Homo sapiens: one gene and its partners. The protein of the gene in region 1 interacts with the protein of each later gene in a pairwise test. Each region holds a gene or a part of one and is shown in the gene's direction. Other genes may lie near its edges.

What was found.
Region 2: the proteins of PSTPIP1 (region 1) and FBXL18 interact in a two-hybrid assay, tested with the Homo sapiens proteins (one large-scale study listed by BioGRID).
Region 3: the proteins of PSTPIP1 (region 1) and NCBP1 interact in binary tests that used the Homo sapiens proteins (3 or more experiments, as listed by UniProt).
Region 4: the proteins of PSTPIP1 (region 1) and HAPLN2 interact in binary tests that used the Homo sapiens proteins (3 or more experiments, as listed by UniProt).
Region 5: the proteins of PSTPIP1 (region 1) and EXOC5 interact in a two-hybrid assay, tested with the Homo sapiens proteins (one large-scale study listed by BioGRID).
Region 6: the proteins of PSTPIP1 (region 1) and SYCE1 interact in a two-hybrid assay, tested with the Homo sapiens proteins (one large-scale study listed by BioGRID).
Region 7: the proteins of PSTPIP1 (region 1) and HHEX interact in binary tests that used the Homo sapiens proteins (3 or more experiments, as listed by UniProt).

What each region holds. Positions count from the first base shown.
Region 1 is NC_000015.10:77,035,551-77,037,975, forward strand, and holds the end of PSTPIP1 (proline-serine-threonine phosphatase-interacting protein 1), read left to right. Parts: coding exon 1-13; intron 14-251; coding exon 252-385; intron 386-1,494; coding exon 1,495-1,626; 3' UTR 1,627-1,925; downstream 1,926-2,425. UniProt on the Homo sapiens protein: Involved in regulation of the actin cytoskeleton. May regulate WAS actin-bundling activity. Bridges the interaction between ABL1 and PTPN18 leading to ABL1 dephosphorylation.
Region 2 is NC_000007.14:5,475,810-5,479,309, reverse strand, and holds part of FBXL18 (F-box/LRR-repeat protein 18), read left to right. Parts: 3' UTR 1-3,500. UniProt on the Homo sapiens protein: Substrate-recognition component of the SCF (SKP1-CUL1-F-box protein)-type E3 ubiquitin ligase complex.
Region 3 is NC_000009.12:97,661,321-97,664,820, forward strand, and holds part of NCBP1 (nuclear cap-binding protein subunit 1), read left to right. Parts: intron 1-721; coding exon 722-824; intron 825-1,633; coding exon 1,634-1,727; intron 1,728-3,019; coding exon 3,020-3,123; intron 3,124-3,500. UniProt on the Homo sapiens protein: Component of the cap-binding complex (CBC), which binds cotranscriptionally to the 5'-cap of pre-mRNAs and is involved in various processes such as pre-mRNA splicing, translation regulation, nonsense-mediated mRNA decay, RNA-mediated gene silencing (RNAi) by microRNAs (miRNAs) and mRNA export.
Region 4 is NC_000001.11:156,622,415-156,626,225, forward strand, and holds the end of HAPLN2 (hyaluronan and proteoglycan link protein 2 precursor), read left to right. Parts: intron 1-1,052; coding exon of another isoform or gene 1,053-1,076; coding exon 1,077-1,161; intron 1,162-1,392; coding exon 1,393-1,746; coding exon of another isoform or gene 1,747-1,750; exon of another isoform or gene 1,751-1,883; intron 1,884-1,936; coding exon 1,937-2,053; intron 2,054-2,186; coding exon 2,187-2,369; intron 2,370-2,686; coding exon 2,687-2,970; 3' UTR 2,971-3,311; downstream 3,312-3,811. UniProt on the Homo sapiens protein: Mediates a firm binding of versican V2 to hyaluronic acid. May play a pivotal role in the formation of the hyaluronan-associated matrix in the central nervous system (CNS) which facilitates neuronal conduction and general structural stabilization.
Region 5 is NC_000014.9:57,234,406-57,237,905, reverse strand, and holds part of EXOC5 (exocyst complex component 5), read left to right. Parts: intron 1-539; coding exon 540-568; intron 569-2,085; coding exon 2,086-2,195; intron 2,196-3,500. UniProt on the Homo sapiens protein: Component of the exocyst complex involved in the docking of exocytic vesicles with fusion sites on the plasma membrane.
Region 6 is NC_000010.11:133,555,584-133,559,083, reverse strand, and holds part of SYCE1 (synaptonemal complex central element protein 1), read left to right. Parts: intron 1-132; coding exon 133-207; intron 208-869; coding exon 870-917; intron 918-1,165; coding exon 1,166-1,220; intron 1,221-1,927; coding exon 1,928-2,017; intron 2,018-2,261; coding exon 2,262-2,325; intron 2,326-3,036; coding exon 3,037-3,103; intron 3,104-3,180; coding exon 3,181-3,304; intron 3,305-3,376; coding exon 3,377-3,487; intron 3,488-3,500. UniProt on the Homo sapiens protein: Major component of the transverse central element of synaptonemal complexes (SCS), formed between homologous chromosomes during meiotic prophase. Requires SYCP1 in order to be incorporated into the central element.
Region 7 is NC_000010.11:92,688,714-92,692,754, forward strand, and holds the start of HHEX (hematopoietically-expressed homeobox protein HHEX), read left to right. Parts: upstream 1-1,241; 5' UTR 1,242-1,273; coding exon 1,274-1,634; intron 1,635-3,654; coding exon 3,655-3,833; intron 3,834-3,988; coding exon 3,989-4,039; intron 4,040-4,041. UniProt on the Homo sapiens protein: Recognizes the DNA sequence 5'-ATTAA-3'. Transcriptional repressor. Activator of WNT-mediated transcription in conjunction with CTNNB1.

The sequences.
Region 1 (2,425 bases):
GCAGCTTCTGCTGGTAAAGGGGGTCAGGAGGGGACCCCCAAACACACTGATCCTGGGGGGGAGGAGAGGTCTCCCACATGGCACAGATGGGGCCACTGAGGCCCTCAAGAGGAAGTGTGTGTCCCCCAACAGCAAGTGTGGACAGCAGAAGGAAGAGGCAGGGCCCAGCATGGAGAAACCCCATTCTAGTAGGACTTCCAGGGGCCAGTGTCCCCAGAAGGGGAGGGGTCTATGTCTCACCCTGCTCTTAGCGTCCACAGAGACCCTGACCCCCACCCCCGAGCGGAATGAGGGTGTCTACACAGCCATCGCAGTGCAGGAGATACAGGGAAACCCGGCCTCACCAGCCCAGGAGTACCGGGCGCTCTACGATTATACAGCGCAGGTGAGGCCTCTATACCCCAAACCCACCTGTGCCACCTCCCCTGCACCTGAGAGCTCCCTCTCCCATCCAGTGCCTTGCGTCCTCATCTCTCCTCATGGTTTCACTCATCTTCGAGCATCCTCTCCTCCTCAGGAGGGCACGTGTGCCCGAGTGTGTCCACACTAGCAAGGGTACCTGGGAGTGTGCTTGGATGTGAGCTCTGAGAACAGCACCCAGGGCTTGCGGGGCCTCAGTGTGCATGTACTGACTGGAAGCTGGTGTGCAGCAGGCCTGTGTCTGCCCGGGCCTGTACACAGCACACACGTGGAGCACATGTACCTATGCCGTCCACACAGGCTGGGCGCTGAGTGGTGCACACGTGCGGGGAGCTGGCAGAGCCTGGAGCTGCCTGCAGGTCATAGCTTGAGGGCCAGGCTCTGTGCCTTTGGGTCAGGGCCCTGTCCTTCGTGGCCATGGGTGTGGAAAACTGTGGCCAGAATGAGTCTTGCTATCGTGCCAGGATTGATTTTCTGATGTCCATAGGGTGAGGATGAACCAAGGCAGCCACAGGGCAGCTATGAGAGTCCTTTCTGCTCCCTGCTTGAGGGGAAGAATGCATAGCCAGACCTCACATCCACCTGGACTGAGGCCAAGCACCCCCACATAGCCAGGCAGGCTGGGTGTGGACTCCACTGATGAGGCCAGGGCTCGGGGAGGCAGGGAAGCCAGGCCAGGAGAGTGATGGGGTACTTGGATGGCAGTGGCTAGCTGGGGCTGGGGACCGCAAAGGGGAGGCTTGTGGTAAGCTTAGGCATGAGTGTGCCCTGGGCTTGGGGTATGATGAGCACCCGTGACCCCTGACATGCTCCAGTCACTGCGTCTCCAGAATGGGAGAGGGGAGGTGAGGCTGGGAAGAAACCCAGGTTGGGGGAGAACTATGATGACAAACTGAGGGGGATGGGAGGCCCGGTCCGTTGGGTTACCCCCATCCTGTGTCCCCAAGGGGCTGCCCCTGCCCACCCTGGGAGACATGCCGCATTTACTGCTGGGTGGGGGAACGCCAGGCCCCTCCCTGCAGGCCCTTCCCTGCAGGCCCTTCCAACGTCATGCGCTTTCAATCTCTTGGCCAGAACCCAGATGAGCTGGACCTGTCCGCGGGAGACATCCTGGAGGTGATCCTGGAAGGGGAGGATGGCTGGTGGACTGTGGAGAGGAACGGGCAGCGTGGCTTCGTCCCTGGTTCCTACCTGGAGAAGCTTTGAGGAAGGGCCAGGAGCCCCTTCGGACCTGCCCTGCCAGTGGAGCCAGCAGTGCCCCCAGCACTGTCCCCACCTTGCTAGGGCCCAGAACCAAGCGTCCCCCAGCCCCGAGAGGGAGCCTGTCGTCTCCCAGGGAATAAAGGAGTGCGTTCTGTTCTCCTTGGTGTGCTGGGGTCCCGTTCTCTTTTTCTCCTGCTCCAGTGTCCGAGTGCTCAGTTCAGAGGAGGCAAAGGAACAAGGGAAGGAGCCTGGATGTGGAGCTCCCCAACTCAGCCGAGGCTTCAGCTATAGTTGGAGAAGAGGCCTGGCCCCAGTTGCTAGGAGCTCCCAGACTGCCAAGGAGACACATTCACACCTGGACAGAGGACACAGGGGTGCAGGAGGATGTGGCAGGGGCAAGAAGGGGCTCAGCAGGGCTGCAATGGGGAGAGCAGGCTTCTTGGGGGCGGAGGGTTGAGCAGGTCCATGGCTGGGCAGCAGTGGCCAGGCCAGGGCAAGTGCGTGGGCAAAGGTGAGGTTGGGGGTACACCCAGGAATATTCGGAGGACTCAGTTTGGAAACAGGAAGCTGGTGATGGATCTGTTGGAGAGGCCATGGTGGGAGCCCAGGAAGACAGGCTTGTGGCTTGTGGGTGCAAGTGGGGCCTGGGGAAGCCACTGCTGCCCATGACACTCCCCTCAACATGGCAACCCCGGCCGAGCAGGGGTCCACAGCCCAGGCACGTTGGCCCCGGGCACAGAGGGAGCTGTTCTTGAAGGCCTTCAGCCCCTTCTCTTTTTAGTCCCAGGAACATAACTTTCAC
Region 2 (3,500 bases), on another chromosome or scaffold:
GCATCCTAGCGTGTGTACGATCGCGCCTGGGTGTCCTGTTCTCATGAGCAAGCGGTTTTAACCAGCAGCATAATTTATACTCATAGACAGGACTGGGGGAAGGGCTGTTCCTGAGGCTGGGGTGCAGTGCCTTGGAAAGCACCCCTGAAACAGTGGACCTTGTATTTTTAGTGTCCCCTGCAACCATCCTCTGACTTAGAGCAAGAATTTCCGCTGCTGCTACCCCCGAGATGGGCTTCACCAGATGTTAATAACGTGCTTATTTTCTCTAAGTGCTATTTTGGCACCAGCGTTAGTTGCAATTTATATTCTGCAGCATTTGATGCTGGGAAAAGAACCCACCCTAATGGTCCCCAATTGGCAGAGCTCGGCTGTTAAGCAGCAGACCATATGCTGCCTGCTGGAGGAGCGTGGTCAGCACTTGTCCCCGTGCCTGCGTGCGTGTGCCTGCGTGCACGTGTGCCTGCGGGTACCTGTGCCCTGTGTGTGCACATGTGCCTGCATGCGTGTGCCTGCGTGCACGTGTGCCTGTGTGTACATGTGCCTGCGTGTACCTGTGCCCTGTGTGTGCACGTGTGCCTTCGTGTACCTGTGCCCTGTGTGTGCATGTGTGTGTGAGTCACGTCTTCCGTGTGTGTATGTGAGGGAGAGACTGTGGGGTTGGAGGGAGGGAGGAGGGGAAAGGGTATGTATCCCTTTGTTCTTTAAAAGGGAGAGCCCCAACCTCTCTGGCTGCCCCCTCCTGCCTGTGCTCCCAGCTCACCCCACACCTAGCTGCTATTTATTCTCCTGACCCCCTTCCCGGCCCTGCAGCCCCGTGTCCCGCAGCCTCCGCCCCGCCTCCTGCTCCACGTCACCAGGCAACACTCGGCTCCACCAGGCTTCCGAAGGTGGCCCAGAGCAGGCACTTGAGCCTGATGACCCAGAGCAAAGCTGCCTTTCTGGGCCTTGAGTACTCCTTTCTGCTATGGAAGGCTTTTCTTGTTTTCAACGGCCCGTCCAGCCCAGGGGGGCTGGGTGAGGGCCGCTTCCTTCTGCAGCAGAGGGGGCGGGCTCTATCCTTGCCATCTGCTGCCCCCAGAGGCCCTGCCAGGACATGGGCCTGAGCGGTTTCTTCTCCAAGAGGCCCTCCTGGGACCTGTCTGTGCACAGGGCGGGAAGACACTTGCTGCTTCGACCCAGGACGGCAGCCAGGACGGGCTGAGCTCCTCTTGCGCTGCAAACACACAAGGGTTGCCTGCCAGCTCAGCAGCGCCCTCCCTCAACCACACCCTGGGTCCGGACCCAGAGCCACAGGCCGTTGGACCCAGGGGACCGGGGCTGGGCTCAGGCGTGGGCCTGGAGGGCTTGTGGAGGGGCCAGACCTAGAGCCGTAGGGCTCCAACAGCTGAGGGCTGGGCCCCTGCCGGCCAATGAAGCTCCAGACCAGTGCTCCGGCCTTGGCGGTGCCAGCAGTGCTCCTGCAGGGATGGAGGGTGCTGGAGGCCTGGATGCGGGGACCTTGATCCCCCAGCAGGCAGCGCTGTGGCAGCCTCCCACCTCCTCTTCCCCTGTTATCTGCTCCTTTTAGGATCTGAAAATTACAGAGCCTTTTTTTTTTTTTTGAGAGGGAGTCTTGCTTTGTCCCCCAGGCTGGAGTGCAGTGGCACGATCTCAGCTCACTCACTACAACCTCCACCTCACAGGTTCAAGCGATTCTCCCACATCAGCCTCCTGAGTAGCTGGGATTACAGGCACCTGCCATCATGACCGGCTAATTTTTGTATTTTTGCAGAGATGGGGTTGCACCATGTTGGTCAGGCTGGCCTTGAACTCCTGACCTCAAGTGATTCTCCTGCCTCGGCCTCCCAAAGTGCTAGGATAACAGGTGTGAGCCACCGTGCCTGGCGCATTACAGAGCTCTTGTAAGAAAACGTGTGAAATTCATGGACAAAGTGAGGTGATGAAGTGTGGGGCCACTAAACCAAAGGCAGAGGAGACGTCGGCCACTTCCTGTGGACGTGGGCAGAGCGCTGCTGCCAGTTCCTGGTAGCCTTGACCACGACGCTGGGGGGTCTTTGTGATGGTCATGGGTCTCATTTGCACTTGGGGGTGTGGGATTCAAGTTAGAAGTTTCTAGATCTGGCCGGGCGCAGTGGCTCACGCCTGTAATCCCAGCACTTTAGGAGGCTGAGGCAGGCGGATCATGAGGTCAGGAGATCGAGACCGTCCTGGCTAACACAGTGAAACCCCGTCTCTACTAAAAATACAAAAAAGTAGTCGGGTGTGGTGGCGGGCGCCTGTGGTCCCAGCCACTCAGGAGGCTGAGGCAGGAGAATGGCATGAACCTGGGAGGCGGAGCTTGCAGTGAGCTGAGATCGCACCACTGCATTCCAGCCTGGGCGACAGAGTGAGACTCCGTCTCAAAAAAAAAAAAAACAAAAGAAGTTTCTAGATCTACTGGGCATGATGAACACAAACCCCACAGACACTGAGGAACCCAGTGGTGGCAGTGACTCGGGCTCCTCTGCTCTCTAAAGCTCCTTTGAGAAACATGGGAGGGGCCGGGCGTGGTGGTTCACGCCTGTCATCCCAGCACTTTGGGAGGCTGGGGCAGGAGGATCGCTTGAGCCCAGGAGTTCGAGACCAGCCTGGGCAACATAGTGAGACTGTATCGCTACATAAAATAAAAAAAAAAGTTAGCTGGGCATTGTACATGTGCCTGTGGTCCCAGCTACTCAGGAGGCTGAGGCAGGAGGATTGCTTGAGCCCAGGAGTTGGATGTTGCAGTGAGCCAAGATCGCACCATTGCCCTCCACTCTGGGCCACGGAGCAATACCCTGTCTCAGAAAACAAACAACAAAAAGCAGAAACGCTGAAGGGGTCGGTTTACGGGAAAACCGCCTGTCAGAACACTTGGCTACTCCTACCCCAGATCAGTGGACCTGGGAATGAGGGTTGGTCCCGGGAGGCTTTTCTCCAAGCTGTTGCCACCAGACCCGCCATGGGAACCCTGGCCACAGAAGCCTCCCGGGGAGTGAGCCAGAGCCTGGACCGCTGTGCTGATGTGTCTGGGGTGGAGGGAGGGTGGGGAGTGTGCAAGGGTGTGTGTGTGCCCGGGGGGTGTTCATGGGCAAGCATGTGCGTGCCTGTGTGTGTGCGTGCCCCTCCCCTGCAGCCGTCGGTGGTATCTCCCTCCAGCCCCTTCGCCACCTTCTGAGCATTGTCTGTCCACGTGAGACTGCCCAGAGACAGCAGAGCTCCACGTGGTTTTAAGGGGAGACCTTTCCCTGGACCTGGGGGTCTCGCCGTATCTCATGACCAGGTGCTAAATGACACGACATGCATCACCTGCCTTTCGATGACCAACCTCCCTGTCCCCGTCCCGCTGACCTGCCCCCGTGGCGTCTCACGGTGATGCCTGCTCCTGACATTGGTGTTCACTGTAGCAAACTACATTCTGGATGGGAATTTTCATGTACATGTGTGGCATGTGGAAAATTTCAAATAAAATGGACTTG
Region 3 (3,500 bases), on another chromosome or scaffold:
TTTAACCCCTGCTTTCACCATAGAGAAGTTCCTGAATAGAAAGACTTGGTGTGTTATAAAGTTGGATGTTTTCTCCAAGTTAAGCTATTAGAATAATAATGTTTAACATTTACTCAGTTATATACCATGTAATTCCAACCAGAATCCTAGGAGTTTTTCTGGGCAAGAGTGGGAAAATTGACAAAATAATTTATACAGTTGCCTGAATCAATAAATGGATATGCACATAGAAAAACTACTGAATCAAAATAAGATATTAGTGGCCTTTGGGTATTTATTACTGGGATTTTGTTTGGATATCTCTAAGAAATTTGTATTATGATATTAGAGAAAATGAGTTTAGAAAGAATAAGCCAAAATGATGGCATTAAATTCAGATGTTGTCAGACATCTTAAGACATAAGCTTAAGTGTTTTTTTTTTTTTTTTTTGGTATTAATATAATAGAGGCTATGAATAAGGAAACCTGTGTGATTTTTTTTTTTCAAGGAATGGATGATAGAATTAAGACAGTCACATAAAACTAAGACTTAAAATTACAAGTGGTTTCATATTTTCAGTGTTTGAAATCAGTGACGGTCTTTTATTGTTTATTAGAACCAAAAAACATTACACAAATATCTGTGTATAGATGTGAGCAACCATCTATTTAGCATTTGAGGTAAGGCACCAAGGAATTGCTGTGCTTACATTTTTCTGTTTTACTATAAAATATTTTTCAGATGAAGGATTCAGTTTTAACCCATTGAAAATAGAAGTCTTTGTACAGACTCTGCTACACTTGGCAGCCAAATCATTCAGCCACTCCTTCAGTGCTCTTGCAAAGTATGTATGAGTACAGAGCCTTGCTTGAGAGTTTGGAATTTTGCTTGGTGAACACCAGTGGTATGGTAATTTTTACCTAAGATTGTTGAATATGAAGATCTTAATAGTGTATAATTGGACACAGTGGGTTTGGGTTTGTGGTAGCTGAAATCCATATCCTAAGGCTTCCGTCAGTCTGTTTGTACAGTTGGCATATGTACATGGTAAGTGCTTTTTTTCATATAGACATTTAAAGAAACTAGTGAAAAACCTAGGTTTTTGGGACAGTCATATGCAGTTGGAAGTTCCCACGCTAAATATCTTTCCAAAGCAATGTAAGAAGAAATTAGAATCAGCTACACTGTTGGGAGTCACGCAAAGGTTGGCATCTGAAGACAGGTATTTTTAACTTGTCAGACAGGGTCCAAAGGAAGAAAGAGCACATAGATTTTCCTTCTGCCAAGCAGAGAAACTGGACATCTCACCCCATCTCTGTCTCCAAGGCTTTATATTACTTGCAGGGTTCCCACAGAAGATGCAGTTTGAATATTTCACCATGTTTGAAGACAGTTCCTTAGTCCTTACCTATTCTTTTAAACTGTAGCCCTGGGCTAACGGTAGTATATTGTAAATGTCTTGAGATTTTGTGACAGCTTCCTTAAAAACTATCAATCTGTGATCACACTTTTTGCATCCTTAATGGTTAATACTTAGTTATTTTGCATTTATATATTGCATTATAAATTGAGTAACATTGAAAAGGCTTTGAAAACACTAAAATGTTTAATGAATAAGTATATATGGTATTTTTTTCCCATCATTATCAAAAGGTTTCATGAAGTCTTCAAAACCCTAGCTGAAAGTGATGAAGGAAAGTTACATGTGCTAAGAGTTATGTTTGAGGTCTGGAGGAACCATCCACAGGTAAAAATTATTTAATTAGACATGTTGAAGCTCTGATTGTATGGGTATAAAAATAAGGCCGTTAATTGCCATTGTTTTGTTTGTAAAACATGAAATTTGACTCTGCCTAGATAATGGTTTTTAGATCTAATTCTTTCAGTGCTATGGGAGTAATGATGTTTCATTCATTCTTGAAAGAGTAAGCATTATTATGATTTGGTTTTGAACTATAATATCTCAATATGTTTTAAATGTTCAGGAAAAGGTTTATCTAGTCTATCCAGTTTCTAAATGCAAGCTCCAGATTTCTCAAACCTTGATATATATTGTGTATGACAAAGAAACATTTAAATAAATTTCATAAAACAGTGAGTGTGTAATGATAAAACATTGTTTTACATTTAACTTCTGGGGTTCATTGAAATTATGTATTTTTTTGAATACGTATTAGTACCTGAAATTTAAATTTTTTTTTGGAGACAGAGTCTCACTCTGTCACCCAGGCTGGAGTGCAGTGGCGCAATCTTGGCTCACTGCAACCTCCGCCTCCCGGGTTCAAGTGATTCCCCTGCCTCAGCCTCCCGAGTAGCTGGGATTACAGGCGTCCACCACCACACCTGGCTGATTTTTGTATTTTTAGTAGAGATGGGGTTTCACCATGTTGGCCAGGCTGGTCTGGAACTCCTGACCTCAGGTGATCTGCCCACCTCGGCCTCCCAAAGTGTGCTAGATTACAGGTGTGAGCCACCGCGCCTGGCCAGTTTTTTCAAATTTTAACTGTTACCATTCAGAGTTTTTGTTTAGTCAACCTGTTTCTTGTAGTGCTAGAGCAAAGCAAAGGGGAGAATAAATCTTAAGACCTAATGATCAGGCCAGGCGTGGTGGCTCTTACCTGTAATCCTAGCACTTTGGGAGGCCGAGATGGATGGATCACTTGAAGCCAGGAGTTCGAGACCAGCCTAGGCAATACAGTGAAACCCCGTCTATACTAAAATTACAAAAATTAGCCAGGCATGGTGGTGCACACCTGTAATCTGAGCTGCTCAGGAGGTTGAGGCAGGAGAATTGCTTGAACCTAGGAGGTGGAGGTTGCAGTGAGCTGAGATCGTGCCACTCCACTCCCGCCTAGGTGACAGAGCAACTCTGTCTCCCAAAAAAAAGACCTAATGGTCAGATTGATCAATCAATTCCATAGCCACCAAAACTAAATTTTATAGCCCTCCTATTTTACTTTTATAGCAGCAGTGTGGTGGCACATATATATGTGTGTGTATGTGTGTGTGTGATTTACTTGAATAATTCTCTCATTGTAGATGATTGCTGTACTAGTGGATAAGATGATTCGTACACAAATAGTTGATTGTGCTGCCGTAGCAAATTGGATCTTCTCTTCAGAACTATCTCGTGACTTTACCAGGTAATATAAATTATTTTATGAAACTTGTGTTCCCTAAGAATTGATATATGTGTGGTCTCTTATACATAAGCTTCAAATTCTGGTCCAAACCAGGTTGATATTAATATACTAATGGTCCAATCTGGTAGGATTGGACATGGCAAAAATTCCTAGACAGTGGAAACATACACAGCCTATCAGGTTGCAGCGTCTCTTAGCAGGGACACTCTTAAGTTGAATCAAGGCTAAGCCAGTGAAGTAGAAATCCTGTTGAAGGATCCAGACTGTTGGGAGAGAAAACTAGCAAGAGCCAGCTATGTGCAGAGTCTCAGCTAGTCCAGATGGAACTCGGGAAGGGTTCCAGCTTCAGTGGGGATGGCACCTAGAATGCACACCAG
Region 4 (3,811 bases), on another chromosome or scaffold:
CTGCACTCCAGTCTGGGCGAGAGAGTAAAACCCTGTCTCAAAAAAAAAAAGGTCCGCAGTCCAGCAGATCACAGTGCACTACAGTGTGGCAAACTGGGGGTGGGTAAAGGTTTCCCAAAGGAGGTGAGGCCTGTGCGACCAATGCAGGCACAAAGGAAAGGAAATGAATGCAAACTTGGACTGTGTGGGAAACTGCCAGAAATCCAGCATGTCAGGGGAACAGTGCAGAGGCCAAAGTGGTTAAGAGGCGAGGCGGGGACCATGCTGGAGGTGCAGGGAGCAACTGGATTATAGACAGCCTTGGAAGCTGTGGTTATGAGATTGGATTTTATCCTCAGGGCAACTGGGAGTCACTTTCAAGCAGGAGAGTGACAAGGCCAGGCACGGTGGCTCACGCCTGCTGTAATCCCAGCACCAGCCTTGTCAACACAGCATGACCTTGTCTCTACTAAAAACTTAAAAAGAAACAATTAGCTGGGTGTGGTGGCACATGTCTGTAGTTCCAGCTACTCAGGAGGCTGAAATGGGAGGATCACCTGGAGCTGGAAGTTAGGGGCTGCAGTGAGCCATGATCATGCCACGGGACTCCAGCCTGGACCATGGAGCAACACTCTGTCTCAAAAAAATAAATAAATAAATAAATAAATAAATAAATAAATAAATAAAATAAAAAAGCAGGAGAGTGATAAGATCATTTTGACTCTGGCTTCAAGATGGAGAATGGGTGTTGGGAGAGGATAGAGACGAGCTGGCAGTCCAGATGGCAAGCTTGGGAAGTAGCACTTGTGATGAGGGGGACAGGTAGAGAAGATGCTAAATTAGTACCTGCAGGCTGAGAGGATGTGACAGAGGAAGAGAGGGAGAGGAAGGGGATTGCTACTGCCTTCTTCCCCTCATCACCTTCATTTTGTCACCAACCCCTTTTCTCTGCCCCAGTGGCTTCCAGCTGGACAGTCCCTTCTAGGATCTCTGATGGGAGTTCACCCACAACCCTGCTCTTCCCCACCCTTTTGCCCCAGTCCTAAGAACTGCCCACTCTTTGTGCCCTGCAGACGGTGCCGGGCTGACCCCCCATCATGCCAGGCTGGCTCACCCTCCCCACACTCTGCCGCTTCCTTCTTTGGGCCTTCACCATCTTCCACAAAGCCCAAGGAGACCCAGGTAAGACCCCAGCCCAGGCCAGAATCTGGGGGAGGCTTGGGGAGACTGCAAGGGTGGGGAAAGGGGAAAGGGCAGTTGTTGCAGGTACCCAGGGACTGAAAGTCATTGCTGAGAAGGCAATGGAGGAGAGGGTTGGGGGGCTCTGGAGAAAGCATTTGGGGAGCAGGGTCTGATGGGCACTTGGGGCAGTGAGGATTGGGGGTTCCTGCCACTGTGGCCCCCTCTGCCCAGCATCCCACCCGGGCCCCCACTACCTCCTGCCCCCCATCCACGAGGTCATTCACTCTCATCGTGGGGCCACGGCCACGCTGCCCTGCGTCCTGGGCACCACGCCTCCCAGCTACAAGGTGCGCTGGAGCAAGGTGGAGCCTGGGGAGCTCCGGGAAACGCTGATCCTCATCACCAACGGACTGCACGCCCGGGGGTATGGGCCCCTGGGAGGGCGCGCCAGGATGCGGAGGGGGCATCGACTAGACGCCTCCCTGGTCATCGCGGGCGTGCGCCTGGAGGACGAGGGCCGGTACCGCTGCGAGCTCATCAACGGCATCGAGGACGAGAGCGTGGCGCTGACCTTGAGCTTGGAGGGTGAGGCCCTTCCGCTCCCGCCCCATTCCTGTGTAGCAGCGGGTCCGCCTCGCCTGGGTCTCCCAGGGCTCCTTCCCAGTATCTCCTCCGCACCCCTGGGGACCCCAGCTCCCTCTCCCAGGCCGCGCCGCCCTTCCTCCCCCTCCGCTCCCATCCGCTGGCCCTCCCCAGGATCCCCGCCACCCCCTAGGTGTGGTGTTTCCGTACCAACCCAGCCGGGGCCGGTACCAGTTCAATTACTACGAGGCGAAGCAGGCGTGCGAGGAGCAGGACGGACGCCTGGCCACCTACTCCCAGCTCTACCAGGGTGAGCGGCCGAACCCAGCACTTCCCAAGCCCCGCGGAGCTGTCTCAGGGGCCCGAGAGAGGGCGCCAGGCGAGCTCAGTCTGGCTCCTGCCTATGACGCCTCTTATCCCCGACCTCCGCCGTCTCCCGCCAGCTTGGACCGAGGGTCTGGACTGGTGTAACGCGGGCTGGCTGCTCGAGGGCTCCGTGCGCTACCCTGTGCTCACCGCACGCGCCCCGTGCGGCGGCCGAGGCCGGCCCGGGATCCGCAGCTACGGACCCCGCGACCGGATGCGCGACCGCTACGACGCCTTCTGCTTCACCTCCGCGCTGGCGGGTGAGGCGCGGGACGAAGGCAGGGTCTTGGGGAGGGGTCTGAAAAATGTGGGGGACGAGGAGTGGACCTCAGCTTGAGATCAGGGCAGGGTCTCCGGGTCCCTCCAAGGCACCGCCCCCCCATCAGCCCGCCCGCCCGCCCAGGCTCCAGCTCACCTCTCCAAACCCTCCCTGCACTTTTGCCTCGATCCCCCAACTCCTCTTACCCAAGCTCGATCCAGCACCTCTGCGGTCCCGCACCCCAACTCCGCCTCCTGGGTGTCAGCCGCCCCTCTCCGCCCACCCTGCCCTCGGTCGGTGACCCGCTGTGGTCCCCAGGCCAAGTGTTCTTCGTGCCCGGGCGGCTGACGCTGTCTGAAGCCCACGCGGCGTGCCGGCGACGCGGCGCCGTGGTGGCCAAGGTTGGGCACCTCTACGCCGCCTGGAAGTTTTCGGGGCTAGACCAGTGCGACGGCGGCTGGCTGGCTGACGGCAGTGTGCGCTTCCCAATCACCACGCCGAGGCCGCGCTGCGGGGGGCTCCCGGATCCCGGAGTGCGCAGTTTCGGCTTCCCCAGGCCCCAACAGGCAGCCTATGGGACCTACTGCTACGCCGAGAATTAGGCGCCCACCGTGTCCCCTCCAGCGCGCGCGAAGAAGCTTGGGAGTCGTGGCGGGGGTCTCTCGCCACCCCTTTCCGGAGAGCCTCCCCTCCCTCCAGACCCGGAGCGGCCTCTCCAGACCTGCCTTCCCAGCCGGGGGCTGCGGGCCTCGGACCCCGGCTGGCCCGGCGGCGGGGAGGGGAGGCGGGGGCGCCTCCGGCGGCGAGATGCAGAGGTGACCCTCGGACCCGCTGCCGTTCGCGAACCCTAGCAGAGGACTCAGCCACCGCCGGGGGGAGGGTGAGGCGGCCGGGGGCATTAACTGACCTCTGAGTACAGCAATAAAATAACCTGGGGATCTTTTGTGTTGGGTGGAGCTGTAAGAGCTGCGAGGCGTGGAGGGGTGTGTGTGTGTGTGTGTGCACGCTCATGTCGGGGCTGATGACCCGGGATCCTGCGTGCCCACTGAGCACCTAAGACAGGGTAAGGGGCAGGGCTGTTGCTGTTAAGGGATGGGTCAGCGGAAGAGCGGGAGTGCGGCCGGAGGGCACCAATAGGCCAAGGGAGAGAGAGAAGTGGAGACGTAGTGGGCGCCTGGCCCAGGACCCACGCAGAACCCAGCATGTTGTTGCGCCAGGCGCCACGCGGGGGCGCCGCACACTCACCTAAGATTAGTTCAAATCTGCCAGGGGCGCCCCATGCCACCAGGCCCACCCTATGTGCCCCAGATAACAAATATAAGACAACTTAAACATATTTCAAAATGTGCAGGCTGCAGACCTCCCTGAAGCGTTTGCGGGGACTACTGTTAAAGATAGGAAAGTCATATTGTTGCTAGAATTGACAGGAAATTAACCTTGCGT
Region 5 (3,500 bases), on another chromosome or scaffold:
TAGGCACATTGCTGGGTCTTATCATTTGTCATTAATATATCATCATATAATATATTATTTGATCATCTTTTTCTTTTGAATAATAATGATGGAACTTTATTTTTAAAAATACCAACCATGGGAATGGGGAGGGAGACAAATAATCAAGTGTATTTAAAATGCCAGCAAATAAAAGTAAGAACAGTAAGTCAGTTTTGGGACTGGCTGGGTTGTTAGTGTCTTATGCAGAGCAGTTGATTCTTTAAAAAGAGAATTGATTTTCAATGTGAATTTCCTAAATGAGAACCAGCTACCTACCTACATTAAGTTTTATCACCTGGCATGCTTCCTATCAGAATTCTCTCCTCTGATTTTGTCTTTTTTCTTTTTACAATAACCTTTTAACTTTATAATGGTTTTGGATTTACAGAAAAGTTGCAAAGATAGTACAGATGGTTCTCGTATCTCCTGCACCCAGTTTCCCATTTGGTTAGCATCTTACATTGCCATAGGATGTTTATCACAACTAACAAACCTCATGGTTGGTTTTTGTCTTTCAGATTTTCAGAAGTTAAATCCAAAATTGCAAGTAAGTGATGTATTTATTTTACCTTTTTTTTAATAAGTAAAAAAACTACTTGTGTAAAAATAAAACAGCAAAAGGAGAAAAAGCAGGAACAATGTCATCTTCCTACCCTAGTAGGCTACTGCATAGAAGATCCCTGAGTTTGATTTCTCTTCCCTCAAAACAACCATTACCAGTTTTTTTGGATATTCTTGCAGAATAATCTATGGATATACAAGCATAAGACATAAATTCTATATATGTGTGTGTGTACATATGTATGTGTATGTATAGATATTTATATGTACTTCTATCCTCATTTATTTTTAAATAATTGCTACCATACTATATAAATAGCTTTATACCTTGCATTTTTAATTTAATAGTGCATTTTGGAAATCCTGTGCTTTCCATACATCTATCTCTGAATAAGATTCTCTCTTTTTTTTTTTAAGATTATATAAGCATTTCAGTATCTATTTAACTCCTTACATGATTAGTTTGGTTCTTGCCAGTCTTGGATTTTAGTTTAGGTTAGATCATTCTAGGTTTTTGAAAAGACCACTAAATTTGCAGGTTCTGTGGTAGCTGGGGTCACTATTTAGAGTAGGCCACTGCATAGAAGATTCAAAGATTCATCTATATTCCCAAAAAGTCTTAGAATAAGGATGACACAGCTAGTTAGACTTCCTGGGAATATTTTTGATCACAATAGATTGGTCTGAAGTTCAGGTGTTCGTTAAGAACCATACTAGCCTCAAGAATATAGTGAATAGGGCCGGACATGGTGGTTCGCACCTGTAATCCCAGCACTTTGGGAGGCCGAGGCGGGTGGATCACCTGAGGTCAGGAGTTCGAGACCAGCTTGGCCAACATAGTGAAACCCCGTCTCTATTAAAAATACAAAAATTAGCTGGGTGTGGTAATGGGTGTCTATAATCCTAGCTACTCAGGAGGCTGAGGCAGGAGAATCGCTTGAACCCAGCAGGTGGAGGTTGCAGTGAGCCGAGATCGCGCCACTGCACTTTGACTGGGTGACACAGAGAAACTCTGTCTCGAAAAAAAAAAAAAAAAGAAAATGAAAAAAATATAAATACTGCATATTATCAGGATGAGATTTGGTGTTCAGTCATCAGTCCACTATTGTTCTAGGTAGAGGCATCAGAACTCTAGTAAAGAGTTCTGTAGTCCTCTTCACCCTTTCCATGTGTAGGATTTTTCATGTGTGTTGCTATCAGAAATAGCATCTGGAGGATTTTTTCCAGTCAGCTACTGGTTTAAGTAACAATGGCATATGACAGTCAGACCCTGGAAAGCTCAGTAATTTTGCCAGTTTGGAAGTTTTTTGTCTTGAAAATATAGATTTATATGCCACAGTATATTACAGGGGCTGGGTTCACGGCCTATAATCTCATTTGTTTTTGTAATTCCTTCAAAAGAAAGCTATATTCATAGTCATTATATTTGTAAATAATGTAGATACTCTTAAATAACGTGGATGCCTTGTATGCCTCAGTGTAGCTGAATGACTTTATTTTTAGGTAAATACCATGATTTAGAATGCCAGCTGATTCAGGAGTTTACCAGTGCTCAAAGAAGAGGTGAAATCTCCAGAATGAGAGAAGTAGCAGCAGTTTTACTTCATTTTAAGGTAAATAGTAGGAATTAAAAATGAATAGTGTTCAAGGCTATGGAAATTACGTAAGTTCTATATATTATAGTCTCTGATTTCCCCCATTCATTATGTAACTATCACAGTGATAATTTTCACTGTTTTGAGTAATTTGTACATTTGATACTCTGTAAATGGTATTGAATGTTATATATTTAATATTTAAGGTTTTATATTCAATAATATTAATATTGAATTAAAATTAATTGATCAATTAAATATTGATGAATTTTTATACTTTGATAAAGAAAATCATATTGTCTGCCTTTTTGCTTCCACATATTATAATATAGGTGAAAAGAAAGAAAACGTGACCGTAAATATCTGTAGGATATAGGAACCAGAGAGTAGATGGAACATGACTAGTAAGAGACTTAAATCCAGGGGACCTCAGGAGGTAATACAAAAGAATTTTGTATTACGGAATTGTTTACCTAGAATTTGAACTCGGGAGAGAATCCCTGTGTAGGAGTATATTTCTGCAAAGAAAGTGCTTAAAGAAATGGTTCTTCCTTCAATCTGTTTCTTTGATTTGTATCAGATTAGGGAAGGGGAAGCTATTTGTTGGACTTTTCATTTTGGTAAAATCTGAATGAGTATTGAGAATGGCTCTTGAGACAGTAGTGCACTTTATATTGCTTTCCTTACTGGTTTTTATGTATGATTTATTAATAGGCAAAAATCTCATTATGGTGAGCTTAATGACAAATCAGTTTGTTTTAAACACATTTTATTAAAATACATTTAGTTTAAAAAGTAAATTTCCAAACTACCAGCTGAATACAACTGTCCAGATTCTTGCAAGGAAAACCAAATGCTAGAGAAGGCCAGGCGCAATGGCTCACTCCTGTAATCCTAGTATTTTGGGAGGCCGAGGCGGGTGGATCAGTTTAGCTCAGGAGTTCGAGATCAGCTTAGGCAACATGGTGAGACCCTGTCTCTACAGAAAATACAAAAATTAGCCGGAGGGGAGGCATGTGCCTGTAGTCCCAGCTACTCGGGAGGCTACAGCAGGAGGATCGCATGAGCCTGGGAGGCAGAGGTTGTAGTTAGCCAAGATGACACCATTGCATTCCAGCCTGGGTGACAGGAGTGAAATCCTGTCTCAAAAAAAAAAAAAGAAATATATATATACACATATATATATATATACACACACACACACACACACACACACACGTATATATACACACTTTAATATATATAAATATATTTATATGTATATAAAACACATACATATATATATGTAAAACCTTTTCCCAAGACCTTGACTCTCTGTGTATG
Region 6 (3,500 bases), on another chromosome or scaffold:
GCTGGAAGCCTCGTTTCCTACTCTATAAAATCTAGGCCACTATAGATTTACCTGAAGGCAAATGAGAAATGTCACTGTTGGGAAGAGAATAGAGGCTGCACTCACACAATGTTTTTCTGCTCTTTGGTGAAGCAAAAAAGAAAGCCAATAAAGACCTAGGAGAGGCCCGGACCATCTGTGAGGCCCTGCAGAAGGAACTGGACTCGCGTAAGAGAGCCGGGGGTCACCCAGAGGTCCCCACAGTGTCTTAAGCCTCCCCTAACCCTGTATTCCAGATAATCAGCATCCTTGCCATGGCCAAGGGTCCTGTACCCTCTCTAGCCTCATGTCCTGCCAATCTCCCCCTCTCCTCTCTGCTTGTGGGAGTGTTCAGGAAACACCCTCCAACCTCATTCCCACCTCAGGGCTTTTGCCAGACGCTGTCTGTGCTTCCTCAGATAATACAGGTTCCTCTTTCCTCACATCATCAGCTCTAAGTTAGAATGTCCCCAGACAGGATGACTGGCATTCCCCAATCATCCCATTTAAAGATGGCACCCTGCCTCCATCTGGTCACATGCCCCATCCTATTTGATGTGTTTCTTTATAGCCCTTATCCCACTTCGTGGGTGTTGGTATTTTTTCTCTCCTCCCCATGTAAAAGCACGAGCATCCTCCAGGGCCCTCACAGCCACCCTCTGTAAATGTGAAGGCCCTTTGGTGCTTACAAGGAATGTGGGCACCAGAGGGTAGGGAGGGGCTCACCTCAAGGGTTCACATTTGGGTTGGGGCCAAGGCTGTGCCCAGCTTCCCATGTGACCGTGAGCAAGCCCCATCCCTGAGGGTGCAGTGCATAGTCCCTGATGCCAAAATGTGTCACTGTTTTCTAGTGCATGGAGAGAAAGTACACCTGAAGGAGATCTTGAGCAAAAAACAAGGTATTTGCCGCTCCCCTGTCTCCAGGCTTGTGCCTTTGCCAACCCACAGAAGCCCACTCTCCCTATGGCAGCTGAAGCCTTTTGAAACCTGTCCCAGCTTGCCTCTCTCCTGTGGCTTCCACCAGACATGTAGTAAATGTTAAAGCTCAATCAGGTGTCCACAGACCTGACATGATCTGGCTGTGTTCCCCCTGCCAAAACCCAATACCTTGACAGGTTCTCATAGGGCCCTGTTGCTCTCCCTACAGAGACCCTGAGGATCCTCCGGCTGCATTGCCAGGAAAAGGAAAGTGAGGCACACAGGTAAGAGCTTCCAGCTGAGCCTAACTCTGCACTACCTCTTTATTCTGGTAGAGCAGAAAGAGGCAGGAAGATGAATCTGAGACCCACAGCTCTCATTGTTTCCCTCTAAACAATGGAGAGTCCAAAGAATGTCTTTCCCCTTCGGCTCCAACAGCTGGCAGTAGTGTTAAGGGAAACTCTCTCAATGGCAAGACATTCATTTGCTAAATTGTCAATTAAATTTCTTCAGCTGGTTTTTATTTTTTGCCTTTTACTCTTTGTCATACTCCTTGGATGTCTATTCACTCATCTGTCTGTTCATTTAGGCATTGAGCCAACCATTTGTCCATTCTCTCTCCATTCATCCATTATCTTTTCATCCACCCATCGATTTGTCCATCCATTTCTCCACCTCCTGATTTAGCTCATTTGTTACCAGAGGCCCCAGGCCCTGGCACACTGAGATTTCAGCTCTTTGGGAAAACGAGATGATACTAAGATGTGTGTGCATTTGCTCACTTAACCATGTCCACATTAATCTCTCTTAACCTGACAACAATACTTCCAGGGGGCAAATGGTCATGTCACTCCCTACTTACCACATGTTACAGAGAAGGACCTTAATGTAGAGGGAAAAAATAGCCTCAATAGAGGGAGGCAGAAGCCCCAGCCCAGTGCCCTCCTGGGGCTTAAGAGAACATGGCTGAGGGCTGCCTCGCCTCTCCCAGGAAGCACACCATGTTGCAGGAGTGCAAGGAGAGAATTTCTGCCCTGAACTTGCAGATTGAAGAAGAGAAGAACAAACAGAGACAGCTGAGGTAAACCTTAGCATCTGAGGCAGGGGGTTTGGATGGCCAGTAGTTGGGATATAATGTCAAAGATGGGGGTTAGAAAAGCTGGCTACACTGAGCCATGGAGATTCAAGGTGGTGAAGATGTTCCCAGTGGAGCAGAGACCATGGGCAAAGCACCCCAAAATCTGCCTGAAGAACCACAGACTTGGACAGGCTGTGAAGGTGGTGATTTCAGCCCATATCCCCTCATGCCTGTGGTTGGTTCCCAGGTTGGCATTCGAGGAACAGCTGGAAGATCTGATGGGCCAGCACAAGGACCTCTGGGACTTCCACGTGAGTCCCTCAAAGCCACTCCTCCCCCTTCCACATCTTCCCTAGCAGCACCAGGCCCAAACGGTCACTTCTTCCTCTCACCTGCCACAACCAGTCGCCAAGCAAGCCCTGGTGGTGCTAAGATCGACATTGCCTGAATCCAGTCCCTTGTCACCTCCTTGTGACCCTGCTGCTCAGTGGTCAGGGGGATCTCTGATGAGACCAAGGTCAAGTCTTCCATCACTGTCCGTGGATGTGTCTGGGACCATCACGGGCACAAAGGAGACAACGAGGATAAGCAGCCCGTGTTTGTCCCCCAGGAGGATCCTAGGCACTGAACAAGAAAATAGACAGTGAGTGTCAGGAAGGAAGGGCTCAGTGAGGAGGTCACACCAGGACAGAGGGGAGTGGGGAGGAGCTGCAGAGCTAAACCGGTACCTGATCCTCCAGAAAACAGCCAAGACTCACAGTGCTTGCAGGTTTATCTGTTGTAAATAACAATCCATGAGCATCCCCACTGCAGTACCGCAGAGATGTGGGATGACAGAAGTGCACAGGGAGGGAATGGCCAGTGCCATGGCCCTGAGGCTGTACTGTAGCTGGTGTGCACAGAGGGGCAGAGTTGTTGGAAGTGAGGCATAGTGAGTAAGTATGAAACAAGATCCAGATAGCCTTCTTTGAGGCATGGGGGAAAGCCAAGAGGAGTGGACAGGCCTCTTTTCTGCCCCTCAGATGCCAGAGCGGCTGGCAAAGGAGATTTGTGCCCTGGACAGCAGCAAGGAGCAGCTGCTCAAGGAAGGTGAGACCAGGGAAGGTGGATGGCCCATATCTGACCTCACGTGCCTTCATGTGCTCACCTGCCCCTTTGTGCTGCAGAGAAGCTGGTCAAGGCGACACTGGAAGACGTGAAGCATCAGCTGTGCTCCCTGTGTGGGGCTGAGGGCCCCTCCACCCTTGATGAGGGACTCTTTCTCCGCAGCCAGGAGGCTGCAGCCACAGTGTAAGATGTGGAGGGGAAGAGGGTGGGAGGAGGGAGTGGCCGGTGCTGACCACCCCCTACTGGGCCCCCCAGGCAGCTGTTTCAGGAAGAGCACAGGAAGGCTGAGGAGCTCCTAGCAGCTGCTGCCCAGCGCCACCAGCAGCTGCAGCAGAAGTGCCAACAACAGCAGCAGAAGCGGCAGAGGTGCGTGTGGAGG
Region 7 (4,041 bases), on another chromosome or scaffold:
ATCTGTCCTTTTCACTGCTGGCACACAGTAGTTGCTCAACAAAAATGTGCGAAGTGAAACTCGAACAGGCGGTCAGGCTCACAGTCCACGCCTCTTCCTACTGTGGTCCCGCTGTGTTTGGACAAATAGTTCCAAATTATAAACTTTAAAACCTGAGAAGTCTCAATAGAAAAAGCAGGGAAGTCTTTCCATTTCCATGATTAATGGAGGACCTTAGCAGAAACGGCTCACCGCGAGGTGTGACGACCGCAGGAGGGCGTCAATCAAGAAAATGCCCCCTTGCCCCGGAGGCGAGTGGAGCCGCACAGAGCCGAGGCCATACGGGCCAGCAGTACGGACTGCTTCAATAGAAAACACGTGCAAAACCAGAGAGCCAGACTGCGCACAGCTGCGACCCTCAAGAGCCAGCAGAAAAGACACGGAGCGGCCCCCACTGGATTGAAGACTGCACAGCCTCTGCCCGGCGCTGTAGGACCCGGGCCTCCCCTTGATTGCTGCTCGCAGCGGCTTCTGCCAGCATCCTCGCGGAAGTGGCTTGAGTCCGAGGCCTCCAAATGAAACCAGGTGGAGCGGCCAAGAGTCCGCAGCACCTGAACTCCAGCCATCCGAATCCCGCCGGGCCGCAGCTAAGGGCCGCCGAGCAGCCCTAGGAACCCAGGGCACTGTCCCGCTCTGAGCTCGGGAAACGGCCGGTGTGACAGCCAGCGCCACTGTTAATCCAGGGAGCGCACCCACCGAGGAGGCGTCTTAGGCCAGCGGCCTCTGCTCCCGCCGAGTCCCGCTGCTCCCCGCCTGGAAACAGCTGCTGCCACCCCGGGCCCAGGCCTGGACGGCGCCCCCGAATTTCGGCAGAGGTGCCTCGGGGCCGCGGACAGGGCCGCTGGAGCCCGCACTCCAGAAGGCGGTCTTCCTCGCGCCTCCCCCGACGGACGCGGCCCAGGGCTTCCCTCGAGGGCGTCCTCGGCCGGGGTGCCTGGAGTCCCCAGGGGCGACAGCCGCGGCGGGGCACCAGGGCGCCAGTTCCCCGGAGCCTGGTAGCAAGCGCGTCCCGGGGGCGGGGAGCTTGGCCGGCGGGGCGGGCCGGGGTGGGGGCGGGCGGCTGCTCTTGGGGCCCCGCGCCATTGGCCGCAGGGCCCGGCGGCAGGAAGGGGCCAGCGAGCGCGGCCCCACCCCGCGGCCGGCGGAGCCTATCGCCGGGAGCGCGGAGCGCGGATAAATGTAGCGCCGCGGCGCGGGCCAGCAGCTCTGCGAGGGGCCGGAGCGCGGCGGAGCCATGCAGTACCCGCACCCCGGGCCGGCGGCGGGCGCCGTGGGGGTGCCGCTGTACGCGCCCACGCCGCTGCTGCAACCCGCACACCCGACGCCCTTTTACATCGAGGACATCCTGGGCCGCGGGCCCGCCGCGCCCACGCCCGCCCCCACGCTGCCGTCCCCCAACTCCTCCTTCACCAGCCTCGTGTCCCCCTACCGGACCCCGGTGTACGAGCCCACGCCGATCCATCCAGCCTTCTCGCACCACTCCGCCGCCGCGCTGGCCGCTGCCTACGGACCCGGCGGCTTCGGGGGCCCTCTGTACCCCTTCCCGCGGACGGTGAACGACTACACGCACGCCCTGCTCCGCCACGACCCCCTGGGTAAGGCGGCCGGGCGAGGGTGGGGGCGAGGAAGCGCCACCCGGCAGGTGGCAGCGCCCGGGAGGCCGAGGGGGCGAAGGGGGCAGGCGGTAGACGGCTGTGGCAAAAGCGATGGAAAAGCAGCTGTCGGGCACGCGCGGGGACGGGAGGCGCGCGGCCGGGGCTGACCGCACCGTGACTCAGATTGGTTTTCCTGCACCTTGCAGGCGTCGGGGCGCGCGGGCCGGCGGTAGACCTCGCGGCGAGGGCAGCCGTGGACCGCGCGTGTTACCCGGGGTGGGGCTCCCTTAGCGGGAGGGACGGGGAAAGGGGCGTCGAGGCGCCCCTGGCCGGCCCCCGTGGGGCAGGGATCGCAGCCGGGCCCGGGTGGCTACGGGGCTGGACCTGGTTCAACAGGCTTGTGCAGTGAAAGAGCCTGACCCTTTCCGTTCATACAGGAAATCTTGAGTTCTCGATAGGAGTAAATCTGGTTTCAGAAGCTGTTAAGTGTTTTCCTGGCTGCATGAAGCAGACCCTTCCCCCGGAGTAGTGCACGCTGCTGATTATTTTATCGACATCCTCAATACAGACAAATTCAGGAAACACTCGACTTCTGATAGCCGGGATCCGTTTTTCTGATATTGTTCATTTCCTCTGTGTGGGATGTGACTTTATGGCAGCTAAAATAACCAGTTGCTTCCTATTTTTTTTCGAGGCTGTTTTGCACCAGTCTGAAGCCTGACGCAAGCAAAATCTCGAAAAAACAATGCTAGCTTTCAAAGCGTTGAGGTGCAGGCCTGCAGACGGACGGACGGACCGACCGACACTACTTTGGGAGTAGGAAGCAGCAGCTCCTGGTCGCCAGTTAGGAAGGGAAGCAGGGACACATAGGGCATATATTCCAGAACTTCGGGGCTTGTCCCCTCAATGTGCGGCCTAACAAATAAGCCGCCCGTGGTCCGCGCTGTGGGTGACCCTTGGCGCCTTCGAGGTCTGGAGCCCTAGGGTAAATAAGGAAACGGGGCGCCTCTAGAGTTTTAAATGAACTCTGTTATTGGAAGCTTCAGTAGGGACCCTGAAAACAATTAACGTCTTAATTAGCATTTTAATGTCTCCATTATTACGGCGCGGGCTCTAGCTCAGCCCTTTACCTTACCTTCTCACCGTTAACAGGGGAGGGGGATTGTATTTTTAGTTCATCTTTTTATGTTTTTGAGTTGTTATCCTGTCTGTCTGATTCCAGCCTCGAGGGTTTGATGATGCGGCCCGAGCCTGGCTGTGGTCGCCTGTCGGGGCTGGAGCGGGACCCTCAGCCGGGCCGGGCCTGGGGGCTAACGTTTTCACAGTGCGCCCTGAGTTTCCTTGGGTTACTGCTGGGACCGCGCAGGAGGAAGCAAAGAGTTTTTCGAGCTAGACCAACAGGAAACACATTGACGGAAATGTTGCCATAGCCCATGGGGTGGCTTTAACTGGCCGCCCCCGCGGGCTGGGTGTGAAATCAGAGGAGGCCGCGGCTCCCCCGGCCAGGATTGGAGGCTCCTCGCGCAACCTAATGCGGGTGTCCGGGCCCGAGCGCTTCCCGCGCAGCCAGGCCTTGTCGGTGCAGCAGCCCCGCTCCTCCCCAACACGCACACACCCGGTGTTCGCAAGTGCGGCTCACCAAGGGAGATCCAAGGGGGCAAAAAGTTATGTATAAATCCGAGAGCCACTGGGGAAAGAGGGTCGTGGTATTGTAAGCCCAGCCGGTAGTGCCCATTCTTTTTGGGGTTAAAGGTATGTCTGGATTTAGTTCTAGGTGTGACGGCTGTGTGTCTGTCTGTGTGTGTACAAGGCTGTGTGCATCTGCGGTGTCAGTGTGTGACTTTGGGTATGTTTGTGTGTCGGTGGGAACGTGTTAGGTCCACGTGCCGGTGGGTGTATGTGAATGTGTCTGGTTGGGTGGCCTCCTGGCCTACCTTTGTCATCCCTGGGGCCCGACAGCTCTGGGGTCTGGCCAGGCCGCTCCAGGGCAGTGGGTGAGCGCCGCTCTTCCCGCTCGCAGGCAAACCTCTACTCTGGAGCCCCTTCTTGCAGAGGCCTCTGCATAAAAGGAAAGGCGGCCAGGTGAGATTCTCCAACGACCAGACCATCGAGCTGGAGAAGAAATTCGAGACGCAGAAATATCTCTCTCCGCCCGAGAGGAAGCGTCTGGCCAAGATGCTGCAGCTCAGCGAGAGACAGGTGAGCTCGCGGGGGGCCTGGGGCCGCCTCCGGGGAAGGGAAGGCTTCTGGGGTAGGGGTCGCCGGGCCACCGAGAGAGAGGCGAGGAGCCACCCTGCCCTCTGGCACGTCCCGACGCGGGCTCGTTGCAAGTTTTCTTTCTCTCTTTCCTGTAGGTCAAAACCTGGTTTCAGAATCGACGCGCTAAATGGAGGAGACTAAAACAGGT